4 separate regions of the Homo sapiens genome follow, and all the other regions are linked to region 3. The links come from fine-mapping of genetic effects on gene expression. A gene starts in region 3. Each other region holds a variant in brackets. All regions are shown on one strand. Distances are from middle to middle. Region 1 overlaps NHSL2 (NHS like 2). Region 2 overlaps NHSL2 (NHS like 2). Region 3 holds the start of NHSL2 (NHS like 2). Region 4 overlaps NHSL2 (NHS like 2).

What was found.
Region 1: its variant is fine-mapped to the expression of NHSL2 in whole blood (TOPMed, PIP above 0.99).
Region 2: its variant is fine-mapped to the expression of NHSL2 in whole blood (TOPMed, PIP 0.94).
Region 4: its variant is fine-mapped to the expression of NHSL2 in whole blood (TOPMed, PIP above 0.99).

The regions. Positions count from the first base shown.
Region 1 is chrX:72,102,020-72,110,124 of GRCh38, forward strand. All of the region lies in intron 1 of NHSL2 (NHS like 2), which reads left to right. Among named protein-coding and RNA genes, the nearest start is that of RTL5, 26 kb to the right of the region's middle. The variant G/A (reference allele first, on the strand shown) is at 3,503.
Region 2 is chrX:72,050,736-72,058,840 of GRCh38, forward strand. All of the region lies in intron 1 of NHSL2 (NHS like 2), which reads left to right. Among named protein-coding and RNA genes, the nearest start is that of RTL5, 77 kb to the right of the region's middle. The variant T/G (reference allele first, on the strand shown) is at 4,359.
Region 3 is chrX:71,905,917-71,914,021 of GRCh38, forward strand. NHSL2 (NHS like 2) reads left to right here and starts at 4,929. Exons shown (of 8, transcript NM_001013627.3): 1 at 4,929-5,451. The coding sequence starts at 5,172.
Region 4 is chrX:72,120,591-72,128,695 of GRCh38, forward strand. All of the region lies in intron 1 of NHSL2 (NHS like 2), which reads left to right. RTL5 (retrotransposon Gag like 5) reads right to left here. Exons shown (of 1, transcript NM_001405151.1): 1 at 6,520-8,105. Among named protein-coding and RNA genes, the nearest start is that of RTL5, 7.3 kb to the right of the region's middle. The variant C/T (reference allele first, on the strand shown) is at 3,097.

The DNA of each region.
Region 1 (8,105 bases), 200 kb after region 3:
CTGAATGTTGGCAGCCTAGGCTCTGCACTAACTTAGCACCTAGTGCAGAGCCTGTCACGTGCATGGGAGCTACCCAGTAGCATTCTCTTGGACGGATAAATGCATGGGTGAATTAACATGCTTTGGATATTGTCTTTGTTGTACCTCCTCAGGGCTCCCAAAGCCTTAAAACTAGAACTTGTCACCTCATCACTTTAGAACCTTCTATTTGCAGGCATCTATGCACCTGCTGATCTCTCCCACTAAGAAAAGGTGACAAGAGAAACCAGCCAGGGGATTCCTGAGGGTAGTCTAGGAGTCTCGAAGCCTTGCAGTGGTCTTCCAGGCTGAATCATCCTACCTCGAGAACCAAGAGCATGAGAGTTGGCATCAGACAGACTTAGTTCAAGTCTCAACCCTGCTATTTCCTGTATATATAATCTTAGTCAAAAGTCATTTCACCACTCTTAAGATTTAGTACTCTACTCTGTAAAATGGGGCTAAAAATACCTACCCAGCATTATGGTGAGGAATAAATGAGAAAATGTGTTAGGTTGAATCCTATGAAACTGTCCAAAGCATTTAAATGCCAGCAAATTTGTATGGTTCAACCTAATATATAAAGTAGCCTTTATAAACTATAAAGTATAATAAATAGCCCTATATAAGTATTCATTATTCTTAACAGATATAATTTGTAAGTCACAGAATATTGTTTCTTGCAGTATTAGTAATCCCTTTCATCAGAATACAGGTCAAACTAACAGAAGAAGCCACTTATCTGACAATCGTGGGCTGCAGGCATTTCCTGGAGCATTTTGGCCTGGGAAATAGGGAGCAGGTATTTTTAGGAAACTAGACTGGTTCATGGAAAGCAATGGAGGTGAACACCAGGGTGACTCGTGACAGCTCCTACCTGGAAATGATTAACCCGCAAAAGCACAGTAGGAGTTGGCACATTCTCTTGCCCCAGATGGGAGTACCCACTCCCTAGCTCCAGTAGCAAAGCAGAGGCTGCCTAGGACAAACATTCCTTCCCGGGGGACAGAGCCAAAGGGTCCTAGGCCAGCAGACATCTGGAGGAAACTAAAAACAGCTTCTTGCCAACTTTTCCCTCCCTAGTGGCAGCTATCAAGCCCAGGTAGCTCCTCTTGACCTAGCAAAGTCCCACGCCTGGGAAAGCTTGGATTTGGAACTGATAGCTGCAGTGGCCACAGTGGAGGGAGTGGGGGAAGGTTCTCACCATATTATGCATCGCTCCCTCAATCCCAATCCTAGATGTAAAGGTCACTGGGATTTCAGGCCAGAGGGGACTGGGAAGAGTCCAGAGAAGTGCCCACAGATTTGCTCTGCCTCCGTTGCTGGCACCCCAGGCCAAGGACTACTGAAGCACTAAACAAACAGTTATAAACTTCCTAAGCAGTGTTTCTCACCGAGGGCATCATGGCCCTTGTGGGTAAGACAATTCTTCATTGTACAGGACAGTCCCATGCATTGCAGAACATTTAGAATCTGGTAGCAAGGTAAGAGTAGAGCTGGATGAGTCCCAGGTCCAAGGTTCAGGAGAAGGATCCAAGCAGAGTAGTGGCCTCTTCACAGCTCCAAATGGCACCTTGGTGAAGGCATCTTCAACTAGATGCTCTACAACTAGCTTGATGGCTGTGCACTACCCCATGAGCCAACTGACTGGGTAATCTTGGTTGGGCCATCAGAAACATGTAAATTCACTCAGACAGGGCCTGGGACTTGAGAGGAGAAAAGCCAGAGAAGATACCCTCCCAGGGCTGCCCATGGGCAGGCAGTGCTCTGCACAGCTCTTAGCCCCAAGCCCTGGCCAGCCTGTGGCAGAAGGTCCATGTGGAGAGTGAGGCCGACTTGACCCAGTGCCCGAGTACCAGTTTCCAGCATCAGCCAGGATGGATGTGGGATGCGTGACATTCATTCAGGGAAGTGTGAATATCCAATTTGAGCTACAATGTGGACTCCCCATAGCACAGAAGTGCTTGACCAGGAGTTCATTTACTTAAATGAGAAAAAAATTATAACTTTGTCTTCATTAACCTGTAATTGAAAGTTAGCTTTCCTTCCATTATGAACACAGGCCACACATCACAGTGGCATTAGCCTGTGACTTTGTCTCGAACAGGAGCCACAGATGTTTTTATATCTCATTACTGCTGCTGCAGGTGCCTTAAATTACTGTCCCATTCACGACTACTTCAAAATCATGGCAGTCACTGGACCCGCCACTAGCTCATGTTACTTAATGTGTTAATAACGAAATGCATATTACTATGTTGCAAATTTTAAGACATATATAGATAACTTTAAATGCAATTGACTTCCTTTGTAATCCTATGTATTTTATTTTGTGCTTGTAGAAACATTCCAAGTAGAGGCCCATAAGTTTCATTAGGCTCCTGATGGAGTCCAAGCCATTAAACTGTTAAGAAATCCTGGATTAGAGGGTTGTCAGGAAATCGGCCTCATTTGAGTCAACAAGGAAGGCCTTGAGTATGAAGATAAGGAGCATGGGCATGTGTTCTGCTCACATTGAGGGGATGCTAAAGGTTTCTGAGCAGGAGGTTGCCCAAGGTGACGCTGAGGTCTCCAGCCTGGGATTCATTAACAGAAATACAGAAGTCAGGAGGAAGAGTGGATTAGGATAGCAGGAGAGGTTCTATTTTAAGTATATTAAATTTGAGACTAAAAAAGTGGGTATCCAGGTGAAGATGTCCACCAGGCTCTGAGAAATGCAAGTGGGCAGACTGGGAGAGTGGCTGTGGCAACAGGAAAGAGTTGAGGATCATCCTCTGAGATGATCTTGGGGCGTTTGGAGTGATTGTGCTCAACAAGGAAGAAAAGGCAGGGAGAGAAAAGAGGCCAAGGCAGGGAATTGTCATAGGCTGGCATCTCCAAGAAACAGATTTGGAGATATTGATTTGCCTGCAAAAGGTTTGTTGGGAACTGCCTTCTAGAACAGCACCTGTGAGGGAGCAGGATCGGTCAGAGACAGGAGTTCACCTGCAGTGTGGGCACACTGGAGACCTCAGTTGATAACATGGGAAGCTCTGGAGCTGAGATGCTCTTCAGATGGCCCCAGTTGAGGCCAGGCAGCTGGGCCTTTCTTCCCCCACCTCCCACCCCACCCCATCTATTAACGAGATCTTGGATGCAGGCTGCCCCCCAGGAAAGGGGTTGTTACCTTGGAGAAGAGACTCAACCGTGAGCCATGGACCAACACCTCTGGTAGCTGGGGGACTGAGTGCCTTGGTCCTGAATGGGGGATCAAGCAGCTCAAGGTCTGGTGTTCTAGTCACTCAGGAAATGCAACTGGCTCCCTCCCACCCTGCAGGCCTCTGGGCAAGTCCCTCCCTGCAGCCCAAAGCCAGGTATAGGAGTCCCAGGGACAGGGAGTCAGGACCTAAAAGGAATTTGAGTCCTTGATGCCTGTAATTCAGAGTCCTCAGTCTTTCCCCCAACCTCTCTCACTTGGGGCTAAGATAAGTGGGATGAGGTAGGC[G/A]GAAGTTGGAGGGAACCGTGCCGTTGTCATCTTCTGCACAGTTTGTTTATAAGAGGTTACCAAACTAAGCAAATCAGCCACCATGGAAACAGTCTCTGTGGCTTTCACATCCCTCCCTTCCTTCTGGGGTGACCTGCATCTCAAAGAGGGATGTCACCACAGTTGAGGTTACAGGTCTGCTCACAAGGCCTGTGAGCTACCCAGGAAATGCAATACTGTTATAGCCACCAGGTGAAAGAAGGTTGGGCTTCATTTTTAAAGAGAGAAATATAAAAACTTGACTTTCGATTTTGACGTTCATGTCCTTACGCCAAAAAATCAAACCAAATAGCAACTGAACTGACTACGTGTAATTTCCCCCAAACCTTTGAAATTTACAGTAGCTCTAGGAAACTTGAATCCATGAGGCCGGGCGCGGTGGCTCACGCCTGTAATCCCAGCACTTTGGGAGGCTGAGGCGGGCAGATCATGAGGTCAGGAGATCGAGACCATCCTGGCTAGCACAGTGAAACCCCGTCTCTACTAAAAATACAAAACATTAGCCGGGCGAGGTGGCGGGTGCCTGTAGTCCCAGCTACTCAGGAGGCTGAGGCAGGAGAATGGCGTGAACCCCGGGGGGGCAGAGCCTGCAGTGAGCCGAGATCGCGCCACTGCACTCCAGCCTGGGCGACAGCAAGACTCTGTCTAAAAAAAAAAAAGAAACTTGAATTCATTCATTCATTCCCTCATTACACACACACACACACACACACATACACACACAAAGGTTCTGAGTTTGCAAGATGATAGGCTGAAAGACCAAGTGTGGCCTGAAGTTCAGGTTTTTTTGTTCTGCATGGTTTAAAAAACGAATTTTCCACACTCAGAAGTGCAGCTTAAAAATAAATAAACAAATACCATCTCATGCCAGTTAGAATGGCGATCATTAAAAAGTCAGGAAACAACAGATGCTGGGGAGGATGTGGAGAAATAGGAATGCATTTACACTGTTGGTGGGAGTGTAAATTAGTTCAACCATTGTGGAAGACAGTGTGGCGATTCCTCAGGGATCTAGAACTAGAAATACCATTTGACCCAGCCATCCCATTACTGGGTATATACCCAGAGGATTATAAATCATGCTACTATAAAGACACACACACAGATATGTTTATTGTGGCACTATTCACAATAGCAGACTTGAAACCAACCCAAATATCCATCAATGATAGACTGGATTAAGAAAATGTGGCACATACACACTATGGAATACTGTGCAGCCATAAAAACAAATGAGTTCATGTCCTTTGCAGGGACATGGATGAGGCTGGAAATCATCATTCTCAGCAAACTATCACAAGGACAGAAAACCAAACACTGCATGTTCTCACACATAGGTGGGAGTTGAACAACGAGAACACATGGACACAGGAAGGGGGAACATCACACACCGGGGCTTGTCGGGGGGTGGGGGCTGGGGGAGGGATAGCATTAGGAGAAATACCTAATGTAAATGACGAGTTGATGGGTGCAGCAAACCAACATGGCACATGTGTACCTATGTAACAAACCTGCACATTGCACACATGTACCCTAGAACTCAGAGTATAATAAAAAATAAATAAATAAAATTTTTTAAAAGGCCGGGCGCGGTGGCTCATGCCTGTAATCCTAGCACTTTGGGAGGCCGAGGTGGGTGGATCACGAGGTCAGGAGATGGAGACCATCCTGGCTAACACGGTGAAACCCCGTCTCTACTAAAAATACAAAAAAATTAAATAAATAAATAAATAAATAAACAATAAATAAATAATGTAAGTTAGTTCCCAATGCACTTTCTTAAAAAATCTTAAGATCTGGTCCCAATGGATGAATCAGCTAATACTAAGGGGTTTGGCCCCCTTGTGGGTAGGCAGGGAGTTCCACGGTTCACGGCAGGGCCCATTTAGCCTGCTTCTCTCTTTGGTGTTACCTGCCTGGGCCCTGCCAGTGTTTGTGCTCATGAGCCCTTGATTTGGCTAAGCTGGGTGCTGAGGTTACACAATGATAGATGATGTCATTGCTCTGCTCTGCTGTCTCCTCTGCCCTCAGGGCTCACCATCTCGTGGGGAGGACGACTCATGTGCACCAACAGACAGAAGACAGAGTCCCGGGGGGGTGTTGGAGGAAGGAACAACCCATGAGGAAAAGCGAAGTTGGGACAATGTCATAGAGACTCTAGGAGCAAGGGTAGACTTCTACTAGGTGGAAAAGAGGGCAGGGGTGGGAGAACGGCATTCTAGAGCAAAGGAACAATTCAGCTGATGAATGGTGCTCCTAAAGGAAGTGGCGCATGTGAAGCGGAGAAGAGGCAGGGGCCAGAATGGGAAGACCCTGTCAGCCAGCCTGAGGAACTGGCATTTTATCCTGATGGTTTTGAGGCAGAGGGAAGAGCTGATATGACTTGTGTGTGTCTAGAAGATGACTCTCTTGGCCCCGTGGAGGCTGGATCGTAAGAGAGCAAGATCTGAGGGAGGAAGAGCAGCAGGTAGGAGGTTCTTGTAATTGTTTAGGTGAGAAGTAACAGGGCTTTGATTTGGAGAGGTGCCAGTGAGTGGGAGAAGGAACAGATTTGAGAGGGAGTTAGGAGGTCAGATTGACAGGTCTTGGTGATTCCTCAAGGTGGAAAGTAAAAACCGGGACCCAGTGGCACAGTGGTGTGCAGTGTTATCCTAGCCATGGCAGTAGCTGCCCTTTGTTAAGGGTTCTGGAGCATTTGCAGTACTTGCCCTTACATTAACTCACCCCAGCCTCAAAGTCAAAGACACCAAACTTCTGCCTGTCCACAGGCTTCGTGCAGCACTTCCTAGGTGCCAGGCTGAAGTGTTGCCTTCACATTCACTCACTGCGTCATCACAACTTCCCTAGGAAGTAGTTACTATTCTTACGTCATTTTACAGATGAGGAAACAGAGGCCCATAGAGGCAACGTGAATCTCCCAGGGTCACACAGCTGATAAGCGACAGAGCCAGGATTTGAACCCACATCGTCTGCTCCAGAGCCTTCGCTCTGCTGCCTGGGGGCGGGACCAGAAGAGTGGTCACTGAGCACAGAGACCTTCTGCACACAGAGCAGCCTGAGCAAACTGCAGCAGGCTAGTAGTGTGTGCATCCCACACATTTCTCCAGTGAGCATCTAGACGTGAAATCCCGAGGCCTTGGATGGGCTTTCTAGTTCCAGAAATTTGAGGACATGCGGGTCCGGCAGGGAAGAAGGAAACGCTGAGCCCAGGTTGCCGGCACTGTAGGCAGTGAAGGAGAGCAGTCAGGTCACACCACACAGTTCCCTTCCCCGCCCCAGACCATAGACCCTCCAACAGCTTTCAGGTATGTCGAGCATCAAACCCCAATTCCTGACCGCAGCCCATAAGACTCTGAAGTAATATGGCCCCTGACCACCTCTGTGACATCTTTTCTTGCCATGCTCCCCTCATACATCGCACATACACTGGCTCCTTTCAGTCATCCTTTTCCACCCCAGGGCCTTTGCATTTGCTGTTTCCCCTGCCAAGTGTGCTCTTTTTCTCTTTGTGCGGCTGGTTCCTTCTTATCATTCAGATCTCCTCTGCTTTAGTGTGAACTCCGTGAGGGCATGGACTGTGTCTGTCCTGTTCACTGTTGTATTCCCCAAGCTTATGGGCCCAGTACACAGAAAGGGCTAAGTATTTGTTGAATGAATGAGCTATTTTGGTACCTGCTGTGTGTCAGGCACTTTACAAACATTAATTCGTTTAATCTTCAAAACAACCCTGTGAATTAAGTGTGATTGTTATTCCCATTTTATAGATGAGGCACTGGGAGGTGACTTGACTTGCCCAAGGTCACAGGGCTTAGGAAGAAACAGAGCTGGAACTGGAACTTGACTCTTGACTTATGCTGGCCCCCCTAAACACATTGCTCCAAAGTGTGCATTCAGGCAGGTTTTGTTGTTGTTTGTTTGTTTGTTTGGGAGACAGAGTCTCATACTGTCGCCTGGGATTGAGTGCAATGGCGCGATCTCGGCTCACTGCAACCTCCGCCTCCCAGGTTCAAGCCATTCTCCTGCCTCAGCCTCCCAAGAAGCTGGGATTACAGGTGGCACCACCATGCCTGGCTAATTTTTGTATTTTTAGTAGAGACGGGGTTTCACTATGTTGGCCAGGCTGGTCTCGAACTCCTGACCTCATGATCCGCCCGCCTCAGCCTCCCAAAGTGCTGGGATTACAGGCATGAGCCACCTCACCTGGCCCAGGCAGGGTCTTCATTGAGAAAGGCTGGGGCTCTGTCCTTCCGTGTGCTGCTTTATATGGCTAACTTAAACTTCCCCAGAAAGGAATTGAAGCAATTCTGGTGGCCTCTCAGCTGGGGTTGTTAAACACCCTGGTTGTTCCACCTTTTCATTCTTATTTATTAAAAACTCCACAGAGTTAGAGAAGTTCTTCAGAAAGCAAAGCAGAGTTCTCTGCTCAATGAGAAAGTCACCCCATTCCAGTAGGAGATGCAGCCAAAACCCACAGGACGGGGCATCACCCCAAGGATGCCGGGAACAGAGGGGTGAAGTGCTTTTCTCTGGTCCCATATTTTCTCCACCAGCTTCTTAGTTGCCT
Region 2 (8,105 bases), 140 kb after region 3:
TACAAAAGTTAGGTGTGGTGTCACACGCCTGTAATCCCAGCTACTCAGGAGGCTGAGGCAGGAGAATTGCTTGAACCCGGGAGGCAGAGATTGCAGTGAGCTGAGGTTGCGTCACTGTACTCCAGCCTGGGTGACAGAGCAAGACTCCATCTATCAAAAAAAAAAAAACAAAACAAAAACCAAACCAAACCAAAACCACGTTACAGATGCCACCGACGTCCCTGCATTCTCCTCCTCAGTCCTATTTTTTATTGTCTGGGCTGTGATGCAAATCCAGGCTATGTTTATGCATCCATAAATGGTATGTACTATTTGGTTTTGCACTTTTAAAATTTGTCATAAGTGCTATTATACTACATGAAGTAACTCTAAAATGTGCTTTCTTCACTCAGTGTTATGTTTTTTGGTATCTGTCCCTTTTACACCCATAGATGTAGTTTGTTCATGTTAACTGCTATATAGTATTCCATCAGATGAATAATAAAATTGATTTCTTAATCCACTACTGATAGACACTTAGATTATTTCTATTTTTTACCATTACCAACTATGTTACAATGAACATTCTTGTAGATATTTCCCCATGCATGTACAGAAATTTTCAGTTGTATGTACCTAGAAAGAAGTCAAATTGCTGAGTTGAGGGGTATCTGTAGATATTGCAAAATCGCTCTTTCAGATGGCTATACCGATGCACAGTTCTGCCAGAAATATCTGAGAGAATCTGTTTCTCTACAGCCCCATCAACATTTCACCCTAGGCCCTCCCACTCTGTTCTCACAGTGACCGAGTTTCCTAGACACTGTCATACCAGGTGATCATCTCCTATCCAGCCCTCCTTCCTCTTGCTTCTCCTACCTCACTGCCAGATCAACCCTATTTAAGGTTTCCTTCTCCACAACATGTTCCCGATCTACTCCTCTGGCTGGAATTTAAGGCCCTCCACAGATGGATCCAGGCAACCTTTCCAACATCATCTCCTGCTGCCTGCCCTCAGCACACACTCAGGAAGTCTTTGGTTCCTCCAGATTCTTCCACTTGCGGGTCTCTCTCCAACATGTCCCCACCTGTTGCCTGCACACCTCTGGTCCTGCCACCATTCTCTACACCTAGTCTCAGTGTTCACTTCCACCTAGGAAAACCTCATTCATTTCTCACAACTTGCCTCAATGACAGCTTTCTTGGAAGCCTCTCCAGATAACTCCAGGCAGAGTCCCCCTCTCAGCTCCCACTGTACTTTATATAGCATTTATTTCTCTATTATAGTATTTATCCCAGCAGCTTATACAAATCAGACATAAAGCCTCTTGACTCTTTTGCTTGGAAAGTAAGTGTAACCAAAATGGATCTCGTTTTCCTTTGTTGCTTAGAATTCCTTCAACAAACTAAACAAATGTGTATTACATACCTACTCTGCACTAGGTGCTGAGTGGTGGCTGAGCCAGATGAGGCTCCTGGCTTTGTGGCACTTCCAATGTGATGGGGTGAAGGGTGACATGCGTGGTTATCATCCTCTGAGAAAGTTGCCCTCCTCAGTCCTCCGAGGCACACCTGTCTGACTGGATGCTCAATTCCTAGTTTCTGTCCCCAGTGCCTGGCACCAACTAGGGGCCTCAGGGCGAGCTTGCTTGCATGGCAGGTCGGGCATTAAAAGTCTTGGACAGTTGAAGGAGGAGAACCATATTTCAGATAAGTCACAGAGGTGCCAAGAGGCCAGGAGCCTGTGACCTTCAGGCCAACCGCCCTGGGAGTTGCCTGGGAGGCCACATGATTTCTGGAACAAGGCAAAGGGTCTCAACTGAAAGAGATGGGCTTGGGGATGAGGGAGGAGATGGAGTAAGGACCTGGCTACATTGCAGTCCTCCCCATTCCTTCCTCTTCCAGTCCAGCTTCCCCCATGTCCCTCTCATTCCTCCAGGAGCACACGACACTCTCGCCTGGTCTATCCAACTTAGGCTGACCACCCTGGTGGTTTTTAAATGAGTCATCTTCCTGTGTTTGGGAAGGGAAGACCCCCTCCAGGTTGCAAATGAAAAGGGTAGGTGGGGGCCTCTCCTGAGCCATCCCTCTCTCCACCCCTTTCTTCACCCTCTGCTCCCCCCAGCCCCTCTGTAGACATTCTCTGGCCAAGCTGCTAACAGAAAAGGAGGATTTTCTGTGTTACTAATATGTTAACGGTGCAGCTGTGACTCAGCCCTCATGCCCTCTGTAGAAGGAGGCTTGATTTCCATTTGCAAAAGGCAATAGGGATCTGATGAGAGTCTTTCCTGTGTGGAAACATTTCCTGCTCTTGCCCAGTCGGATTGGCACCTTATTTAAACAGCCATAACAATACATCCTAAATTGGGTAAGGGAAATGGAAAACAATGTTGAGAAGAACATAATGACCAGAATTGAATGTGAGCCTTGCCTCGTTAGGATTTGAGTGCAGCAAACCAGGAATTAGGAGCCTTCTCTCTGGTCTAATCAGCTGCTTCACCCCGCGCACCCCAGGCTTCTCAGCCATTTCTTCTGAGAAGTTAGGGGGCCCATCCTCTCACTGGATTCTTGCGACAGTCGCCTGACCAGTTTGCCTGTCTCCATTCTCTCCACCTCCAATCTTCTCCATTCTGGGGACAGGACGCTCCATAACTCCTTATGACCTCTGGCACAGTTTCCTAGAACTGTGTAAACTCCACCACACTAATTGAAATGCCTTCAAGAGGTACAGATGAACTTTTCTTTTTACTTGAATGCTTGCATATTTATTTTTCTATATATGAGAGAAAAGTATAACCAGCATACCTGTGAAATCCATGATTTCACAGAGATATTATTGCTGAGAATGAGGCTGAAGTTCAGAATCGTAGACTGGCAGAACAGAAAAGGGCCCGAGGGATCATCTCGCCATGCACATGTCTTTGCCTTCAGTTCCAATTTTTGTATGCTGTCTGACTACATCTCTGCGTGCTGACCTCCTACCCAACCTTCAAAGCCCATCTCAAAAGCTGCTTCTTTCATAAGTTACATGTTGTCTCTCCCAATAGACTGGGAACTGTTTGTAATACGCTCCTCATTTTGGGGTCCACTCCTCCACCCCCATCTCATTCCCAGCACATAATTGGCCTCAAGCAATGTTTGTGGAAGAAATTAATACTCCTACCATCTACAGCAACACAGAATAAGTCTGCTTCTCCTTCCCAGAACCTGAGCTTGGGATAGACACTCACAGCGAGCTCCTTGGTGGGGTCTCAAAGAGAGTGGGTGAGTTCCTTGAAGGCTGCTTGGAACCAAGGACTCCACCTAAGGACTTGGCCATCATGAAGAGAACCTCACAACTCTTCAACAAGGCCTCACTGAACACCTGCTTACTCTGGGCCAGCTCTGCTGTAGGTGCCAGGGATACTCCATAGCCCTCTCTTCCAAGGAGATGCTGCAACGCTTTCTCTGCCATACTCCTCTGTCTACACTGTGTGGGTGGGAAGTAGAGCCTTCCTGCTTGCATATGTCAATGACAGGTTCCAGTACTATTTTGACAGGTTGTTCCAAAATGATTGCTTTTTGATTGGTGCAGTAAGCTTTAGGAAACCCCCCAATCTCCACTCCCATCTCTCCAGTGCAATAAGCAGAACATTTTCAAACTCTTCCCTGGGCCACTTTAGCTGTTGTCTGAGCTGATCCGCATTCTGTCGTTCTTAATAGCTTCCCTTTCAGAGAATGACATGCTCTTCTGGACTCTTTCTCTCTCTTCTGAAATAGAGTTGGTTTTTTCTTGATTAGAAAAGTAAAATATGTGTGTCTGTTTACTTATTGGTAAAGAGTTTGTTACTTAAAGCTCTTTATATAGTAAAGATATTAACCCTTTTCTGTCCTATGCTGCAAATATCTTTTTCTTTCCCAATTTGCTATTTTCTCTTTGATTTTTGGTTTGTTGTGCTTTGGGATGTGCTAACATTTTTTTAAATGATGCTGCCAAATATGTTGACATTTTCCTTTGTGATTTTAATGCTTAGAAAGTCTTGCCTCCTCCCAGACCAAATAAATACTCATCTATATTCTCCCCAAGTGGCGAGGATGACATTCATCGACCTCACCCCATTTGAGTTCTTTTGGGATCCCCTTTTCTAGCCTCCATGATGCCCCTCCCCCTGCAGTTAGCACAATTTTTCTTCAGTTGAGGCACAAAGCAGTCATTAGGCTGGAGCTTTAAATATGCTAATGAGATCACCCTTTCCCCCGTCACTCTTTCAGCCCCTTTGTAAAAGGACAGCTTGGGGTGGATCCCTTTGCCTGTTGTCCCGTCTCCCGCTTCCTAACCCCCTTCTTTAGCAAGCGGGGAGAGAAAGAGAAAAAGGAAAGTGCTAACTAACTTCAAGTAT[T/G]GGAGGCTACCTAGATGTCACTCCATTTCCAGTGTACACTTTTCACCTCTCCTCAGCAACTACATTTTCAGTTAGGTCCGAATCCAGAGCTCCCAGTTAATGGAAAGTCCCTGCGCATCTAAACACTCAGACTTGAGCAAAGTCACGCAGCCAACAGCCCGAGTTCCCCAGCAACCGCCAGGCCGGGCTTGCTGCATCTTCTCCATCACTGGCACGGTTGCCATGGGAACGCGAGCGCTAAATTACTTTGCGTGTTTGGAAGCTGAAGACCTCAGCTTTGACGCATGTAGCCCAGAAATCGATTGACCTCCAATTAGGTTTTTGTTGTTTTCTTGAGGCATCTTTCTGTTTGTGTCTTGCCTATGCCTCTTGAGGACTGTGTTGGAGGGAGATCTGAGCATTTAGCTTAATTTTTGTAAAAAATTATTTCCACCTTGACTTATTCCAAAAAGGGTTTAAGGTGGCTTATAAGATACATCCTATACTTGGAGAGAACCTAAATTAGATGTAAGGGAGGAAGATGAGGCAGAGAGAAAACAAGGGTAACTTGTGAAGAAGTCGTGATAGAAAGTGAATTTCAGGAAGTCCCCTCTTGATAAATGTGGGTCCCAAATTTGACTTTAACCTTTCATGGCAGATAACAAAAAGGGAGGTATGATCAGTTATAAGATTCATAGATAAAAGCAAATCAACTGCTTAACAGAAACGCAAATGTTCCGAACCTTGAGACTAAAAATCTACTTCTTTACTGGAGATTCTAAAAAAGATGTCACCTTTTTAGTCCTATCACCTAGCATATTACTTGAACAGATGAAAGCATATTCTAACCTTGGTAGGTGGTTTCTTTTATCAAAACTTTCCACTTTTGTTATTGTTGTTGTTAAATAAGTAAATTGCTTTTTTTGTAATGGCAAAATAGAAAAAAATCGTGTAAATAACCATGGAATACTATGCAGCCTTTAAAATTTTTTACGGAATTATTACCACCTAGATTTGGCCACCATTAACCCTTTTTTTAAAAGCGGACATTTTCCCATGTAAATCAGTACCTCCTTTCTGCAGGACAGTTGGGCAATATGTTTCAAAAGGCCTAAAAATGTATACATCCTTTGATGTGGCAATTCTACTCTTAGAAATGCATACTAAGGGAATAATCAAACGAGTGCTAGAGATGCATGTACAAAGATGTGCATCAAAACATTGGTTATGATGTAAAGAGAAAGGGAGAAAATTCTGTGTTCCCTACAGTAGGTGACTGGTTATGTAAACTATGGAGCATCCATATAGTGGGGCATTATGCAGCTGTTGAAAACAAAGATGGAAGTGTCTATTTACCAACAGGCCTCCTAGACTATATCAAGCCTCACCAATATACTCTCTCAGCACCCTGTACCCTTTATTCATTGCAGTTGTTATTGCTTCATAATATATGTATTTGTGTGCTTATTTAACGTCTGCGCACACACACACACACACACACACACACGCTCACACACAGACTGGCATGTCCATGAGGATGGAAACTAAGCCTGTTTTACTCCTTATTGGTATCCCAAGTACCTTGGTATGTAATAGATAATAAATATTATATTTGTTGACCAATGGACTGGCTGAAGAAATGAATGAAAAATCAAGGCCACCAGGCATTCAATTCTTCAATTTCCCTCCCATCCATCCCAGACTTCCCTCAATCTCCAGCTGAGCCATCAGTGCTGCCTACAAATACTTTTACTTTTGTCTGGTCTCTATGGCAGCTGCTTTACGCCTTCCCTGGCTCTTGAGGCCGGACTACCTACCATCTCCTACTTTTAGACGATGATATCATCTCTTACTTCCCAGAGAAATTGGGAGCCAGCAAGTATGGAGTCCTTCAGTGCCCTTCCCTACCAGGGCCTGATTCTGTGAACTTCAGACACCAGGAGGCCATTGGGAACCCAGGCTGGAGCACGTTGGGTAGATTGCTAGAAGGCAAAGCCAGACATCCCTGCCCACTTCTCTCTGTGAACCTCTCTCTCTAGCAATCCCCTTTCTTTCTGCCATCAAGCCTCTTGAAAAGGTACTTTATTTTCTGCCTCCCATTCATTCTGTCCTTGTTTGCATTCAAGGGCACAGTTAAGTATACTGTTGTGCACACCATTATCTATCCATGCAAGGTCCTTAAATTTTTTTATCTTATTTTTCCTTTCATCTCTAATCTCCACTCCCAGTTCCTCTTTAATGGTTTGATACATGCTGTTGGAAATGTCTTTGAAAATTACATAGTGTTTTCTGTGTTTATGTGCTTTTAATTTACATAAATAGTATTGATCCATAGATCATATTCTGTTTCTTTTTTCCCTCAACCCTCTGTTTTGAGGCCTTTCGGTGCTGCTATGTGCACATCTCGTTGATCACTTCTGTCTGACTTGGCACTCATCCACCACATTTTACTTCTCCCTTCCTCTGAGACTGTACATCTTGGTTCTGCCAACTGTCCATGACCACAAATAATGCTGCAATGAACCTTCCTCGACTTGCTCCTAGGGACCTGGGCAAGAATTTCTCTAAACCAGAGATTTTCAGAGTACAATTCACAGACCCCTCAGAGTTTCTGAGACTCTTTTGGAGGATGCTCAAGGTCAGAGCTGTTTCTACGATAACACTAGGACACTATTTGCCTTTTTCATGAGGTTGATTTTTGCACCATTTGCAAAACTGTTGCCACCTTAGTGTGAATCAAGGCAGTGGCACCAGCCTGTACTAGCAGTCATTGTATTTTGTATTTTTCACCACTACATACTCAGAAAAAGGGGGGAAAAGCCACCAATCTTACTGAAAAGTAGCTTAGATAAAGCAGTAAGAAATGGCAATTTTTATTAAATCTCAAGCCTGGAGTTGATGTCTTTTTAATATCCTGTGTGATGAAACAGGAAGAACACAGAAAGCACTTCTGCTGCATGCTGAGTGAGATGGTTGTCTAGAGAAGAGCACTGTGCAATTGTTTGAGGTGTGAGCTCAACAGGCCTCCTTTTTCCTGGAACGTCATTTTCACTTGAAAGAACAATTGACAGGTAAACTATGGTTAGTCAGACTTGAGTATTTGGTGGACATTTTTCTCAAAGATGAACAAAATGAGCCTGTTGCTTCAAGGAAAACAGCTCACAGTATTTGTTACCAAAGATAAAACTTGAACTTTCAAGTGAAAAACAGAATTTTAGAAAACTTGTTTCTGGCACCAGGGGCTTGACAGCTTCCCAGTTCTTTTTTTTTAAATTGTTATTAATTTTTTTTGAGATGGAGTCTCACTCTGTCACCAGGCTGGAGTGCAGTGATGCAATCTCGGCTCACTGCAACCTCCGCCTTCCCGATTCAAGCGATTCTCCTGCCTCAGCGTCCCGAGTAGCTGGGATTACAGGCACGCGCCACCACGCCCAGCTAATTTTTGTATTTTTCATAGAGACGGGGTTTCCCCTTGTTGGCCAGGATGGTCTCGATCTATTGACCTCATGATCCACCCATCTCGGCATCCCAAAGTGCTGGGATTATAGGCGTGAGCCACCGTGCCCGGCCAGCTTCCCAGTTCTTAAAGGCTTTCTCTGCCTGCCCCTTAACTCTTTATGATCTGTTAGGATTCTCCAGTTCCTTGTCCAGAAAATCCTCATTGTAAAGGACACCAGGATTGCTACCTGACCTGGCTTGCTAAGGCCCTATGCATGAGAGTGGACACTGTCTTTGTCCATCACATTGCAGGAGTGATTTGGTCTGCAT
Region 3 (8,105 bases):
ATAAAATTACCTATTAAATGCAACAACATTCGAATGTTCCTAATTATAGTCTCATCCTAACAAGACAGAGCGGGTAAAACATGACGGTTGGGTGGCGGGTGAGGGATTGGTGGTGAAGGAGGATCTACATAGGACATGAAGATGAGGGACTGAAAAAGAATTTGTTCACATTCTGCTGAAATCTCCCATAGTTTCCTTCATAACGCCACAAGTCTTTTTTCGAAGTCTCAGCCTGTGCTCAGAGTCAGGGTCAAAGTTCAAACAACGTCAAAGTTTATTTTTGAAATAAAGGTTTATTTCCTCACGGAATTCTTGAAGGGTTTGCCCCATGTGTGTGAAGCATTGAGACTGGACTGAAAGGAATTTATTTTAGGACCCTGAGCCGTCTTTGGCTCACACGCTTACTGCCCTAGGAGATGATTGATGGCCATGTAAGTTTCCAGTCCACCCTTGGAGGCCCAGCTCTGGGGTTACATCCCTCCCACTCAGCGAAGCCTCTGTTGCCTCTAGGGCAGAAGCATGCTCTTTCCTCTCAAATCTTGTAGCACTGATCCACTCAATGTACCCACTCTTTTTTTTTAACTTTGCATGCTTCATTAATAATTTATCTAATTCTATATGTTTTGATAAATTGTTAATAATCATTATAAAGATAAACTCAATCCACAAATCCCTCTCTTTTCAGAGTGTAGCATTGATTAGCCTTGATACTGTCTGCATTGTTAATTGAATTATAGGCTCTATCTGACTGAAAAGCTGGCAGTTCGATTTCTTTGGGCTACTGGGCTGCCTATCTGAGGAGAGAGAGTTTAATTGTATTCTTAACTGCAGAGCCATGCATTTATACCAAAAAGGGTAAATGACATTTAAAAAGAGAGTCGATTCAATCTAGTATTTGCCAATTCTTGTTAATTTCTCTTGGTACAGACACTTAGAACCAGAGAACAGAATGTTAGAGTTAGGATTAATGAGCAGCCTTTTCATACCCCCACTGCCTGTATATATATTTTTATTGAGTCTCATGGCAAGAGGGTGTGGGGTGAAATATATATTCTTAAAACTTAGATAAAACACAGTGCGACCCTGTAGTTCCAGCTACTTGGGAGGATTGCTTGAGCTGGGTAGTTCGAGTTCAGTCCAGGCAACATAGCAAGACGTTGTCCCTAAAACCAGAAAAAAAAAAAAAAAACTTAGATAAAACAATTGACTGTAGAGGAATATCAAAGAGAAAGCCAACATCTCTTCTTAGCCACCAAGTTGCTACTATCTGGCATATTTGAGAGGTAGCAACATGGAGGCAGTTTTCTTGTTTCTCATCCTGAAATAAGACTGAGGGCTGTACTGGGAAGCTGGGTAGGTTACATGAGGTTTGCTCATAAATTTTCATTTTGCAGCTGTGGAAACTGCCAGCTCAAGGAAGGAGAAATGGCATATCCTGTGTCACTTATTTATTCTTTCAAGTTCATTTTTATTGAAATTCTAGGTTCTTAGCAGCAGCTAGGAAGGCAGATTGGGAGATGGGAAGGAAAGCAGAGGCCTTACTGGTCTTGAGTGGTCAATGCTCCCATTTCCTCCTGCCTCTCTGGCTACTCCTTCTGTCTCTGTTTCTAGGTCGGATCCATACCTGATTCCACAGGGGCTTAGGCTTAGGCTCAGAGTGCAACTCCAAAATCTGGTGTCAGGATGAACTGCTGCAGGCCTGGAGCATGGGAGTTGGTGGGTGCGTGGGAAGCATCCAGCACTTTCAGGTCTGGCTTGGCTGTGAAGGGCCTCCCCTTCTCTTCTTTGCACCTTCATTTTCTCTCTCTCCTTCTGAATGTGAAATGCCAAGGTTTATAGGCAAATCAAAGCAAATGTTGAATTCACAGAGCACTTTCTGGCTACTTGGCTCTGGAGATGTGAGCGCAGGTGGGGCGTAGCAGCCTTGGCCTCCACATGAAAAGTTCTTAAGCACTTCCTTCCTTGTGTCAGGCAATGTTCTACTCCAGAATCCACAACGACTCTCTATAGCCCCTTCGGCTGAGTTGAATCCTTTAGTAAGGCTCTTCATATCTTGCTCTGCCTATAATCCTCCATTTATTCATTCATTCATTCAGCAGGCATTTTCAGAGTACCTGTGGTGTACCCGTCACTGGGCTTGGCACTGGGCATACAGCAGTGAACAAGACAGAAGTGATTCCTGCTGCCATGCAGCTAACAATCATGTGGGGGAGACAATATTATTACAAAGGAATATTAGTATTACTATTAAACAAGGATGTTCATATCACCCTCCAGTACACTGTGCCAGATACTGTGCTAGAGGGTGATGTGGGAGCACAGGAGAGGACACTTTACCCTAGCTGCTTTCCTGCCCAGCCAGCTTGGCTGGAGCACGGTATTTCAAGAACTCTAACTTTCCCTCCACATACCAGAGCCTGGCTCCCTACGCTCCTTCCTCTGAGGCTTTCTGCATCTCTGCTCACCTCTTGAACCCAAGGCAGCCCCTTATTCGAGGTCTCACCTTTCCTGTTGGGAAGAGACTGGATAAGAAGCAAGGTGACAACTTATATTCCCTTGGCTTCTTCCATCATACATGCAGACCCACTCTAGTCCTGGCAAGGGAGGAGGGACTCTGCTGTGAAGTGACTCCATTGCAAATACTTGATGTTTCCTTGACGAAAGCCAGGGCCATCTCATTGATGAGGCTGGAGTGAGAGCAGACTAGGCTGGGGGAAAGGGGGTAGGGCCAAAGCTGGTTTGCTTGGAATTGGGCTTGTTATTATAGATCTCTGAAAGATTCATCAGCATCAGGAATCAGAGTAGTGAGGGAGGCTCAGCGACCAGGCCCAGTCCAGGCCTGCTGTGCTCAGGCAGTGAAGCTCTGACCACACAGTCTCCTTCAATCTGCTCGTACCTCATTTCTTCTTCTCCAGAGCAGAGATCAGTCTAAACAGCTCATAGGTCAAGGAAAAGTATCCCTGGAGAGTCCAGCCAAGTCCCTGCTTCCTCCCAGTTGCTCTCTTGGCTCAGGTTTGAGTTTGCCAAATCGAGAATTTGGGGTTTTTATTCTGCAACTGGATTTTACATTTCAGAAAGGGTACAAGTCTTTTGCCCATTTGTTGATTCTTATTTTAATCAGAACCCAACTTTTCTAATATCCATGTTCTAATTTACTAAACAAGAAACAACTATATGCTGAAAAGGGAAATCGGATTACGCTTTTACTTTATTTTTAATTGACAAACAATTATATGTATTTATGGGGCACGATGTGGTTTGATGTATATATATTAATACATTGTGGAATGATTAAATCAAACTAGTTAACATATCCATTACCTCACATATTTACCATTTTTCTGTGGTGTGAACATTTAGAATCTATTAGCAATTTTGAAATATACTAGTTGTAGAACCTTCTTGAACTGCTTCAGGGACAATTAATTATCTGAAGGAATGCATGAAAACAGGCCACGCTTAGAATCATTAATGTAGATGCAGGTATTCTGTTCAAAGTATTTTACTGGCCAGTGTGGTGGCTCATGCCTGTAATCCCAGTGCTTTGGGAGGCTGAGGCAGGAGGATTGCTTGGGGCCAAGGAGTTTAAGGCCAGCCTGGGCAACATAGGGAGATTCCGTCTCTTCAAAAAATAAAAACTAAATTAGCAGGAGTGGTGGCACGTGCCTATAGCCCTAGCTACTCAGGAGGCTGAGACCGGAGGATCCCCTGAGCCCAGAGTGAATTCAAGGCTGCAGTGAGCTGTGACCACACCACTGCACTCCAGCCAGGGTGACAGTGGTAGATCTTGTCTCTTAAAAAAAAAAGTGTTTTGCTAATGGATTATAAAGGATTATAAGGATGTGAACATTTGTAAGAGGAAAAATGAGAAGAGAATGAAGAGAAGGAAGAAACCGAAGTACACCAAAGTCAAAGAAGTGGGTTAGAGGAGAGTCAGATGGGAGCTCAGTGTGTTGAAAATAAGCGTTCTGAGTGGAAAGGTCCTAAGTGCATGAGGACATATGCTCACGTACTCTGGTTTTCTGAGGACAATAATGTGCCCCCTCTTTTCTGCCTTCTGGAATGGAGAGAAATCAGGCCGTGACCACAGGGTTGCCCGCACTGAAAGCACATCTCGGCTCCTGTAACCCTCTTCGGAGAGCATCCCAGCAGCCCAGCCTGGCCAGGGATAGAGCCTATCCCAGCTGGCGGACCCTACCAGAAGGAGGCGTCCCTGGGCTCTCTTTTTGCATAAACTATGGAGTGGCGTCCCTCTATCTGAATTAAGTCTATTGTTCCAGAAAATGGGTTTGTTTCTATTCATCCACTCCAATGGCTTTACAATGTCCAGCCACTGTGGGACTCCCTAGAGACATTGTCTTCTTGAACAGTCGAATAAGATATTTGGTTTTTTGGTCCTTATTTCCAAGCTCCTGGGTGCTAGAAGGTTGTATTCACAGCCTAGTCTAGCCCGTGCGTGGCACCGAGTACGTTTGGGAAAGGAAATCTAGATCAATAAAGTCAAACTATTCGGTCGGTCTTCGCTGATTACCCGCTGGTGTGGGCGCGGGTGTGCTTGAATTTTTTTTTTTTTTTTTGTAATTATGAAGAAAAAGTTTAAGTTAAAAAAAAAAGCAAAAAATAACTTTAACCATCAGAACTGGGAGTGGAGCTCCTCAGGAGGACCGGGGCACACATTCTACACCGTACCTTACGTCCCCCCTCACGCAGACATTCCTTCTTTCACGCTCCAGCTCGCTCTTTTTACTCCTACTTCCCTTTCTCCCTCTCCCGGATCAAGCGTTAATCTGCGAATCTCTGACCGCAAAAGAAGAAAAAAAAAAAAGGTGGGTGGGGGGATCCCGAAGTAGCAGAGCTAGGAGGAGGAGGAGGAGAAAAGAGAGGAGGAGGAGGGGGGAGGAGGAGGAGGAGCCCGGCGAAGCAGAGTCAGAGGGACTGGTGGCTCCGGCGAGTGTGCAGCCCCGGGGGAGCCGGCGCTCTAGGCGAGGAACCCGTCAGCCCGCCTACCCGCCCGTCGTCTTTGGCGCCCGCACGCTCTCCGGCCCGCGCCCAGGGGCCTGCTACACCCGGAGCTGGGGCCGCCGCTCAGGGGCGCTCGGGCCAGGGGCGCTGCTCGGGGTGAGCCCGCCGCGCCGCCAGACTGGTCCCCTGCGCCCGCGCCCGCGGCCGGGATGCCGTTCTACAGGCGCACGGTGGTACCCCAGCGCCTGTGCCCGCGCAACCCGCCGCAGCAGCTGGCGGAGCTCCGCGACGTGAGCCACCTGGCAGCGCTCAGCCTGCTCCGGCAGCTCGCCGACCTCTGTGGCCACTCGTTGGCTCTGCTCGAGGACCTCGAGGGGCACCTGCTGGCCCTGGGGCGCCGCACAGACAGCCTGTACCGGCGCACCGTGCGCCTCCGCCGCCGCCTTCCCTGCCGCCTGCTTGGCCCGGAGGAGGACGAGGAAGAGCTAGGTAAAAACGGCGCCCCGGTGGCTCGCGGCCCCGCGTCTACCCCGCCTCTAGGGGCGCCGGTCGGCGCTTAGCGCTGTGCCCACCCTCTCCCCGCCTCTCTCCGCCCCTCCCCTCCCCTCCATTCGGGGAGTGAGGGGATCCCATTTCCCCGACCCCCGCCTCCGCCCCACGGTCGCCCTACCGCTGGAACTTCCTGCTCTTGGACCCGGTCGCGCCGTCCGGAGTGGCCCCGTGCCCTTGGGACTCCCGACCCTGGGGTTGGTGGCCGCCTCCTGGGGTTTTGGCTGGGGACGCGCTGGGTCCAGGACGGCTTGGGCGATACTCCCCCTACCCGCCCACCTAGCCCCAGGCCCTCGGCGCCGTCCTCATCGCCGCGTCGGGAGCTAAATGGCCGAGCCGCTGGCTTCTTTGCTCCTGTCTAGGAGCTCGGCCACTTCAGAAAGCGCGCCGCAGCCGACCGCAACCTACGCGGCGGCAGGAGCCGGCGGTGGTGCCTACAGGCTTTAAACCTGTGCAACTTCCCGCTGGAGCGTGGACGCGGCTCCCACTCACAGGAGTGTCTGAGCGTCCTCCCGCTTGCTTCTCTCCGCACGTTTTGGGCCGCTGTGCTGGGGAGTGGCCGGGAGGGGGGAGGGGAGAATGTCCGGGGCTTTGCTGACCCCCTACCCACTACCGCTAGGGTCTGGCTGTTATTTGCTGGAGAGAATCATTTAAAGAAACTATCATCAGTTTCCTGAAGCGCATTCACTTTAGGAATCAGCCATGCCTGAGAAACCAGGTTCCAGTGGTGCCCTCACTGAGCACGCGGGACGTGTGAGAGGGTAGGGGGGCTACGCGAGCCCTTGTCCTTTACTGTTTTGGATCCCAGCACTTTACACGGGGAATCCTCTGTCTGTGGAAATGCAGTGCCCCTGAGAGTGTGGGACTTCTGCTGAAAGCAAGGGGACTGAGTAGGCTGGAAATGCTGACTACAGCTGGGGCATGCCAGGTACCAGGGCCAATCGGTTCCTCCAGAAAGCTGGGGAGAGAAGGAGCAGTGTGGCCAGAAAGTTTCCAATGGGGGCAGAAGATGACTGCTGGCTGATTTCTGAGTGCAAGCTTCCAGCTAACTTGGGAAAGAATTGCCTGGGCCAGCCCCTCTTCATTGCAGACCCCACCCCATCCCCACCCCTTCCAGAAGGACTGGAGTCAGGCCCTGGCACCTCTCTTCATAAAGGTCTCTGACCTCTGAGGTAGATGGCAGAGGTCTCTGGTGGAGATAAATGAACTGAGTCCTATTGGAAAAGAAAGGTGGAAGCCACAGATGACTGCCAGATGGAATGTAGACGTTGGACCAGGAGCCTCTGCATGGCAGGGGCTCAGTTTTTTGCTGGGGTCCCACTGATTACAGGATTAGTCTAGGAGAAATTTGATAAGTCAGCTTGAGGAGTAGTTTTCAAAATCCCTACACAGTTTGCAGAGAGCCACCTACTGAGTTCAGTAGGGTAAGTTAAGGACAGTTTTTTCAACTCTACCTTCCTGTCCACTGAATTAGCAAGCCCTTTCTGTGGGAGGGAAGGCAGGGCTTCACCAAGTCACCTTTGGGACCTAACCCTCTCCGGTGATCTGCCAGGTTAGAAGGAGATGGCTTTATGCAATGGATAGCTTGCAATGGAGAGGAACAATTGTTAAGTTAAATTACCACTGGTTTGGCTTCTTGGCAGTTTTCAAGAGCAGGAAGAGTGGCCATCTCTCATCCCTGGTGTGGCCTCTTGCTTTTGAGAATGTACATGTCCCACGGCTCAGAGGCACCCAAGGGACTGCTGCATAAATGGAACACAGCTACCTTCTGTAAGTTGGTGAAAAGGTCTGATTTTCCATTTTCTGGTCTAATGCCCTACCCTAGACTCCCCTTGAAGTTCTCAGTGCACACTTTTCTCTTCAGGAGCTGTAATTGGGTAGCACTGAAATTAGGCCTTCTCAGCAATGGTCTGAACATAAGTGCCAAATGCAAAGAGAGTTGGGGAGCGTAATCAGTGCACCATCTGGCCACTCCCTTGTCGCTCAGGCATAAGCTTCAACAGGGTGTTTAGCAAGCCGAATATTAGATTTTGACCGTAAGTAAGTAAATAAATGAACATTGTCATGTCTTGCCCTTTTTTCTTCCCTATGCGTTTTCCTCCTAGGATTCCCACTCCCTTACTGACCATTTTGCTGGGGGTCAGCATTTTACCCTGCATATCCTCCATCTGTCTGGATTGCCCTCAGATTCTTCCTCTAGCTATTTATTTTGACCATGGGGCAGGAGAAACCTGGGAAGGTGGGAGGAAGGTTGGAAAGCAACATGGCCAGAGTGAATGACAGCTGACAGGCCAGCAGTATATAGCCTCCCTGCAGTGACAACTTGGCTGCCACTGACTGAGTAGTGGCAAGTCAGACTGGCCTATAGCCTGCAGGCTGGGCTGGGGCCCTGAGAAGCAGCAGGGGAGGACAGAGAGAGGAGGAGCGAGATAGAGGAGGAGAAAGTGGATGCTGAAGAAGTTGAAGGTGCTTCTCTACACAATCACAATCATGGGTCATGCCCCCACCATCTTCAAGGTTACAGGGGTGGACTGGGCTAGGCTAGTTGCCTCGCAACATCCCACCCACTCCACTGAAGGCTGTTCTTTGGTAAC
Region 4 (8,105 bases), 210 kb after region 3:
TGGTCAATCTAGCTAACCAAATTTCTTTTGAATTCCCGTTTGGCCCTCCGCCTCCTTCTGCCTATACTTGAGAGCCTTGGCCAACCTAAGAACATACATATATGTCTTTTACAGTCAAGAAAATGAGTCTTTTCTACACTCCTGCATGTGGAGCTCTCAGCCTGAACCTCCAAAGCATATTGTTATGTCTCCTCAGCTAACTGAGGCAGATTCATTCTGAACCAGCTTCTTTATTAGCCAGTGGCTATGGTGCATGAGGCTGTCAAAATTCTACCCTCTCACTGTGGAAATTAAGCTGCAGCCCTTTTAGTATATGGCCACCAGCCAAGTGTTGCTCATTTGTGACTAAATATGAGGGCCTGGGGAAGAGCAGAAGGCAGCAGGCCCTGGCCAGCCAGGACCCCCACGCAAGGCATTGTGGATACGCCTGGGGCCTGCTCTTCGTGAGTGCCACTCGCTTTGAGTCTTGAATGGGAACAGAGGCAAGTTAGAAAAGCAGAGGCCTACTGCTGTTTGGGCCATATGTCTCCTTGGTCACGGCACCCAGGACTGTGCTTCTCTATTTGGCAGGGACTCAGCTGACAGACGGTAAAGTCAGGAAGTCAGGAAAAAGAATTGGGGATTTTGGGCAAGTGCTAATTCTGGCTAGTGTTTTGGGGTCCCTGGCCCAGTTGGTCATCTTTCCCCTTCCCTCTGCAAGCCCTAAGCCTGGCTAGGGTGCTAGTGTGGAAACATTCATTAGTTCTGAAGATGTCTTAGAGCCACATGTCCACTTAAAGATTATTTCCAGACTAATGAAAAATCTGTGTGTGCAAGCAGGTCCCCATTTTAAAATGGAGCAAAGCCCACCAACATTTCCATGGTAAGGAAATGGCAACAAATCAACTCTTTGGGATGAGTATGTAGTGAGCTTGAAACTCAAACCAAGTGTGACCGCCTCAGCCCCACCCTGGGCTGCTGACTCAGGACCAAGAGGAAGAGGGAGCTGCCAGACTTCACAATTTCTGTAAACAGTTCTTGAAAAAGAAACCACACACTTGTCTTTCTGCCAGCCCCCAGCTTGTCCCCGTAGCTGACAGCGCTGCCATTGTCTTTTCTCTGACACCCTAGGGCAGGGCTTCTTAACTTGAGCTCCATGGACCTCCAAGGGGTGTGTGGAGAGAATTTAGAGGGTCTACAAACTTGGATGGGAAGATTAGTTGATCTTTTCTCCATGAACCTCAAACAACAATTTAGCATTTTCTCAAATTAGGAATGTAAGTGACAAACCACAGTAGTGTTAGCGGTATCTGTGACTTTATCACCAACAGAAATCACAAATATTTTCATATCACATTACTGTTGTTGTAAGTATCTCAAAAAATCATTTGTGTTCATCACCACTTCAACATTTCTAATCTATAGAATTGCCACTAAATCTTGTGATTTAGCGCATTATGAAAGTAGTAACACAACTAGATCACAAAATTTAAAAAATATTTTTCTAACCATTTCGGTATGATTGTTTGCCTTTGTGATTCTATGTATTTTATTTTATGCACGTGAAAACATTATTCTGAGAAGGAATCCGGAGGTTTCACCAAACTACCAAAAGCGTCCATTACCTAAAAAAAGACCAAGACCCTGCCCTGGATCTTGGAACTCTCCTGCTCCATGGGCCTCACTTCTGATCCACAGAACTTTGCCTATCTTACTGGAGGGGTCAAAAGCACTTGCATGTTAGTGCTGTGACACTGGTCAGGAGAAACTTTCTGTGCCTAGTTTCTTAATCTGCAAAAGGCAGAACAATAACACTACCTACCTTATAGGGTTGTGATGATTCAATGGGTTAAGAAATGTAAACCACTTAATGCCCAATACACGGTAAGCACTATTAGCTATTTTTGTTGTTATTGCTGGTTTATATCAATCATCTCATTAATATATGCTATTATTATCTCAATTTTCAGAAAAAGGAAACTGGGGCTTAGAAAAGTGAAATTACTAAGTCAAGGGAACACAGCAAGGGAGTGGCAGAGCCAGGGTTCAAAGCCAGGTCTATGTGACTCTCAAGCCCAGTGGAGGTCACTCTTTAGCACACTACTGAGAGGAGGTGATGTCCCTCAGAGAAATGGAAGCCATCAACAGGGTGCTCGCTGGGAAGGAGCAACTCTGCAAGTTCCTGCTTTGTCTCCCCTGCTTTCCCTACTGTCCACACCTCCAACCTTATCTGGGGGGCTCCTAGCTCCACGTGCATACCATCAGTCCTCAGTCAGGTCTCAGGGGGCCAGTCCTCTTTCCAAAGGCCATTGCCAATGCAGCCTTCATCTGCAAAGAGGACAAGTCCATGTTCTCCCACTGAACCACAGTCTTGCAGTAACAAATTCACTTTGGAGTCATGGACCAGCCTCTGCTCCCAAGTAGATCTCAAGCCTCACAGGCCAGTGGGGTCGGGGTTAGAGGGCCTGAGGGGAACTCAGAAGGGCAGGGGCTTGTCTGGGGAGTGGAGGCAGTTTCGCGGAGGAAGTGGTCTTGGAACTGAGGAGAACATTGCCAGTTGGAGTGAGGCCAGGAATGTTCATGAATTTTTAAGGGAAAGGGAATGGAGTGTGCAAAGGCCCAGAGGCATGCAAGGGCCTCGTATGTACAGAAAAGCAGGAAGTAATTCAAGATGTCTGAAATTTGGGCTAAGTAGAAGAGGAAAGAAGGATAGCATAGGCAGATGAGATGGCATAGATAATTAATGAGCAGATAGGGAAGAAAATGCCAAAAGCAGGTCTACAAGTCTTCCCACGAGGAAGGAGAGCCATTGAGGGGTTTTGTAGAGGAGCAGCAAGGCCAGGTGTGTGAATTCAAAGGCCCACGGCCCCCACCCCCAGGCATGTTGAAGGTGGACCTATTAGAACAGGTAGAGACTAGAGCCTGCTTCAGTAGCTCAGGTGAGAGAGGAGGAAGGGCTGAACTGTGGGTGGAGAGGTCATCAATTTGGGGACACTCTTTCTGGCAAGCCTCACAGCCAACAGGCCTCATCTGTATGATGCAAGAGGTGAAGGAGACCACAGTCGCTGGAGGCACCCGCCCTTCTCTAGCTTGGTCATGTGAGGAGATCCTACAAGG[C/T]AAGGCTTCCCCAGGCCGTGGGACCTTCGCCATGAGTTCACCTGCTGACATCTTCCCTTTTAGCCTCTTTCTCACCCGAACAGCCCACTGCAAGAGCAGAATAAAAAGCCTGGGCCCTACTTTCCCACACAAACACACCACCCCCACCCCCCATCAGGAGAGTTGCTGAGGCGAGGGGCCCCGCTCTACCCCATGTGTGGCAGGCAGGAAGGGGAGAGGGGACACAGGGAGCAGGTCAGGGCCTGCTCTCTGTCAAAGGAAATATCCACCCTCCTAAGCCTTTAAGAAACTGTTTTCTTCCAAGTAGGTCCCGCTGTTACCAGGGCAACCGAGAGCCCTGGTATTTGTGTTTCTGTCTTTGGAGTCCCTGGGGAGAAGTGGCCTGCCGAGCTTTCCCTAGTCTGGGCAGGATACAGGAAGTGCTGGCCGGAGGTGGAGCCCACTCCCCACCTCCCATTAAGGGGGTGGTCTCTTGCCTGATTAATGCCTGTCCTTATCCCCTGGAAGAGTCCACCCCCACCCTCAGGAGCCACTTCTGGCGGTCAAGGGCACAGGCTTTGGCTCCTATGGACCTGGTTTCTCGGGGGCAGAATTCTGCACCTACCTTGTGGCACATCTCTCTCAAATGGGTGTCACCTGCTGTCTGAGGCAGGTATCCAGGAGGGGCAAGCTCACATCAGACCATGGTACCTGCTGAGGGATCGTCACGCATGCTATGTTTCTTGATCACTTACTTTGTGCTAGAACTGGATCTGTGGGTCGGTTCTTGCTCCAGGGAGCTCTAGGGGAAGGCTCAGAACCAAACTGGCCATTAAATGTCACACGGGCTAGTTAGTTCCCAAAGCTCTATGCTGCTCTAGGCTGGGCTGTGTTGGATGTTAGAATTGCCTAGGGAGCTTTCTAGATGTAGACATTCCTGGAGATTTTGTTTCCAACGGCGTGGGTGCAGGTGGGGAGTAGAGGTTAAGAGCATGGGCTCTGGATGTCAAACTGCTGGGGTTCACAGTCAAACTCGGCAAACAGGGCAAGTGACCTCAAGCCACTTGCCTGATTGGTTTCCTCACTTACAGAATGAACGTGGGGAAGTCACAGCTGTTTCACAGGCAGCAAGATTTTCCTTGCCTTCCTCCATCGCTCAGCCCAGGAGAGGGTTTTTAGGACCCTCGCCATCCTTGTCACCCTTCTACTGTCTTCCTTCCTTCCTTCCTTCCTTTTATTCTGATGTTTTCTTACTCCTGGCAAGCCAAAGGGCTTCTGTGAGGTGCAACTTTGTCCCCTTCCACAGGGCAGCCAGGGCCCCAGGTGGGCCCTGCCCATCTCAAGGATTTCACATTGCTATTGCAGCAGCCCAGGAAAGCATTGGCGCATCTGACAGCCAGGTCAGTCTGTGATTCTGACCGATCTCCTGTCAATTCACATCCTCAGATTTTCATTTTCACAAGCTTCTTCTAAGCCACATCTCCCCCACTTAGGCTTCTGCAGTTGCTTTTCTGAACCTGACTGCAGGATCTCAGATGAGCCCCTAGTAAAGGTCATTTCAGTGCATCCTTCCAGGTTAGGGAGAGTTTTTTGGCCCCTCATTCCCTTTTAGAGGACATTAGAGGACATCTTCTAGTCCTCCAAGCTTTGTACCACCTGCAGATGCCCTTAGCAGGCTGCCTCTAGGTCTCCATCCAGTGGCCCATTTATTCACTCACTTCTTCATTTATGTACCAAACTAGGATTGAGATTCTACTGTGTACCAAGTAGTGTGCTGGGCCCCAGGGACTCAACAGTGACTAGACAGATCAAGAAGCCATGGCCCGAGAGGGGATGAGACTCATGCCAGAGCCCATATAGAGTCAGCAGCAAGGCTGGACTGGAATCCAGGGTTCTTTTCCCCATTCCCACAGTGCTTCCTGCTTCAGGGTTGGGGCAAGGCTGACTCTGTTTGTCTTTTTTTCCACCTTCTCTGGCCATAACACAATCTGGGCTCACCTATCACTACTTGTGATGTCATAAGAAATCCCCTGGGTGCTGGAGACCTTGTCAGGCACCCTGAAGAGTACTGGGGAGTCCTAGTGCTCACTGATGAAGCCCACGACCCCATAACCCTGTTCCTCCCTAGAAGGGGCAGTCAACCACATACTTAGAACTGCCACCTGGCTGGTTCCCCCAGAGCTTCCAGAGATGGTGCACCTGATGCGTGCTTCGTTGCTTTGGCAAAGACCCAGAATCCAGGCAGGTTGAGACTTCAAGCTTGTCAGGAGTCTCTCCTGGGAGATAGCAAGCACGGTGTATTTGAGTTAAGAATGTATATGGGTTTGGGAGTCACGAAGACCTGGAGTCCCCCATATGACCTAATATCTCTGAGATTCAGGTCCCTCAGCTCTAAAAGGAGACAGCATCACCTGCCTCACTTAATTGTGGAGATGAAATGATGTTGGCGAAAGTCCCTGGCACATGGTCAGAAATACCATGGTTTCCTCCCTCCCTCCCTTCCTCTTAAAGGGACAAAGCAAATGTGCCTCTGAAACCAGGGTTTGTTTCCCCCACGGGAATCCTGCAAGCTGGAGGCAGGGGGGGTAGGACAGGGCAGAACTAGGAGACCAGCCTGGCCTGTTAGACAGCAGGGCCAGCGGAGTGGGGGCAGAGAGGTGCTAAGTGTCCCCAGAGCTAATGGGCAGCTGCAGGGCTGTGACAGAGCCACTCACTAGCTGTCAACCTTGGGCCAGTGACTTCTCTCTAAGCCTCAGTGTCCTCATCTTTAAGATGAGGGTAAGGGTAGTTAGTTCTTTCCCCCCAGGATATCATTATCAGAATGAAATAAGATAACAGATGTGAAGTGCCTGGCACAGCACTCAAAAGCAGCAGAGGCTTAATGAATGTTCCCACCCACTTCCCCTGGAAAAAAAAAAAAGTCCAATTCATGCTGGGAAACTTGGGCAAATCCCAGAATGGGATTCAGTTTCTTCTGACCCCACAGTCCGTGAGGAGCCATGAGATCTTGCTTGGAGGGCCTCTTACATGGACTGCTCTGGGGACTTGTGATTCATCACCAGCTAACTCACTGGTATCCCATAGCGCCACCTAGTGCCAAAAAGCGGAAGGGCCCTCCCCAGCCAACCTGGCCTCTTTCTCTTCCTTCACTCAAAGTCCCATGCATGCCCGTGCGTGCCTGTAGGGCTGGGCCACCCATAGTCCCCGGGAGAACGAATGCTATTTTTCAAGATGCCCAGTGCTTCCACTTCCCTCCCAACAATTTCTTCCATCCACAAATGCACAGAACTGTAGACAGGTCCCTTGAGCCTCACCGGCCCTTGGTTTCCTTGTCTAAGGATTTCAAGACTTCAGGGTAGGGTTGACTCCGGCAGGGGACCTTGGAAGTACCCTATGCCTACTCTGTACCCATCTATGCTTGCTCAATAACAAAGAGGCACAATCTTTACACACCCTTTATATTTTTATTGAGGAGAGAAAGCTTTAGCATACAGAGCAGCTTCTTATCTTCACAACACAGTAATGCAACAATAACACATGTATTCCAAAAGGGTTTCCTCCCGAGCCTCTGGGAGACCTTGGGCTGCCTTCATACCCCTGCATGCATCCCCTCCCCCCACCCCTCTTTCAACCCAAGAAAGCTCCCAAAGCCCACAGTTCCTCTTACAGCTCTTATGGCTGTTACATCACAACAAATATTGAAGATCTGGGAAAGGAAGGAAGAGGGTCAAAGGGAAGCCCAAGCCCCTCCTGCCCCAGAGGGTGGAAACCAGCTCACTGCTCATCTGCTCTATCCCTGGCTGTAGCTCTGAGGGTTCAGGGTGAGAAGCACCATGGGAACAGGCAGGACCTGTGCTGAAGGGTCCCTGGAAGTGTGGGTTTAAGGCACCCGTCCTTCACACTTCTCCACAGGGACATGGGGCAGCAGGGCCAGAGTGTTGACCATCAGCAAACAGGGTCCACTGCCTCGAAGAATAGCAGGTCCCCTCGAAGAATAGCAGGTCCCCTTCTGGAATGCACTCTTGAGGAAATCAGATAAAATCAGCTGAAAAACAGACAAAATTTTCTTTACAAAGTTGTTTACTCCTGCCCTGGTGGGGATGGGGAAAACCAGACAATTGAAAGGTCCAACAAATTAGGAGAATGCTTAAATGAATTATTCAGTATGCATGACTGCACAGGTGGCAGCCATTTTAAATCCTGCTGATCAAGAACTGGCAGGGTGATCTCAGCTTTGACAAGACATAGCAAGAACACACTAGAAAGGAAAGCAGCAAAGTGTTAATAGTGCTTGCCTCTGTGTGGTGGGACTCTGAATGGCTGGGGGGTTTTTGTCCTCATAGTTTTCTCTATTTTCCAAACTTTCTTTAATGATTATGTATTACTTTTCTCTTTGGAGAGAGGGGATCTTTTTAAAAGGTAGCAACAGGTTATAGGAATCCAAATCCACTGATCCCCAGGCTGAGAAACAAAAGCGCTAATGAAAAGGGCATCTTACCTCCCACTGATGAATAGAGACCTCACCAGAAACCAGTCAGAGGACTGGGTTTCTCTGCGACTCCTCTTCCTCCAGCTTTTTTCTCTTGCCTCCAGGCCCAAGATCCTAAGGTCCGCCTGAGATTATCGGTCAGACTCCCATGAGGAACAGAGGTTGAATTTACTATGCTTTCTTCCCTTTGGCCACAAACCCTGGCTGCACTTGCTCTGCTGCCAGTCACTGTGCAGAAAGTCCAGTGTCCAGGGGCAGTTCAGGCCAGCAGTGGATTTGGCTGGCATTTTATGGCCAAAACTGACATAGTAAGTGTGTGTTTTTCACTGCAGAAGCAGTGCTTTCTGGACTCAAGGCAAGCAGTGGGTCTCTTTATAAGGGCACCTGAGTTTGTACCTAGAAGTCCCAGGAGTTCCTAGGAGGCAGCCACCCTCTTAAGCTTTACTGTGTCACTGAAGCACAGCAGCAGGCCAGGGGTTGGCCCCCATGAGGGGTCCCAGCTGTGAGGCCACGGTAGGTGCAGCCTTCCTCTCTCCTCTCA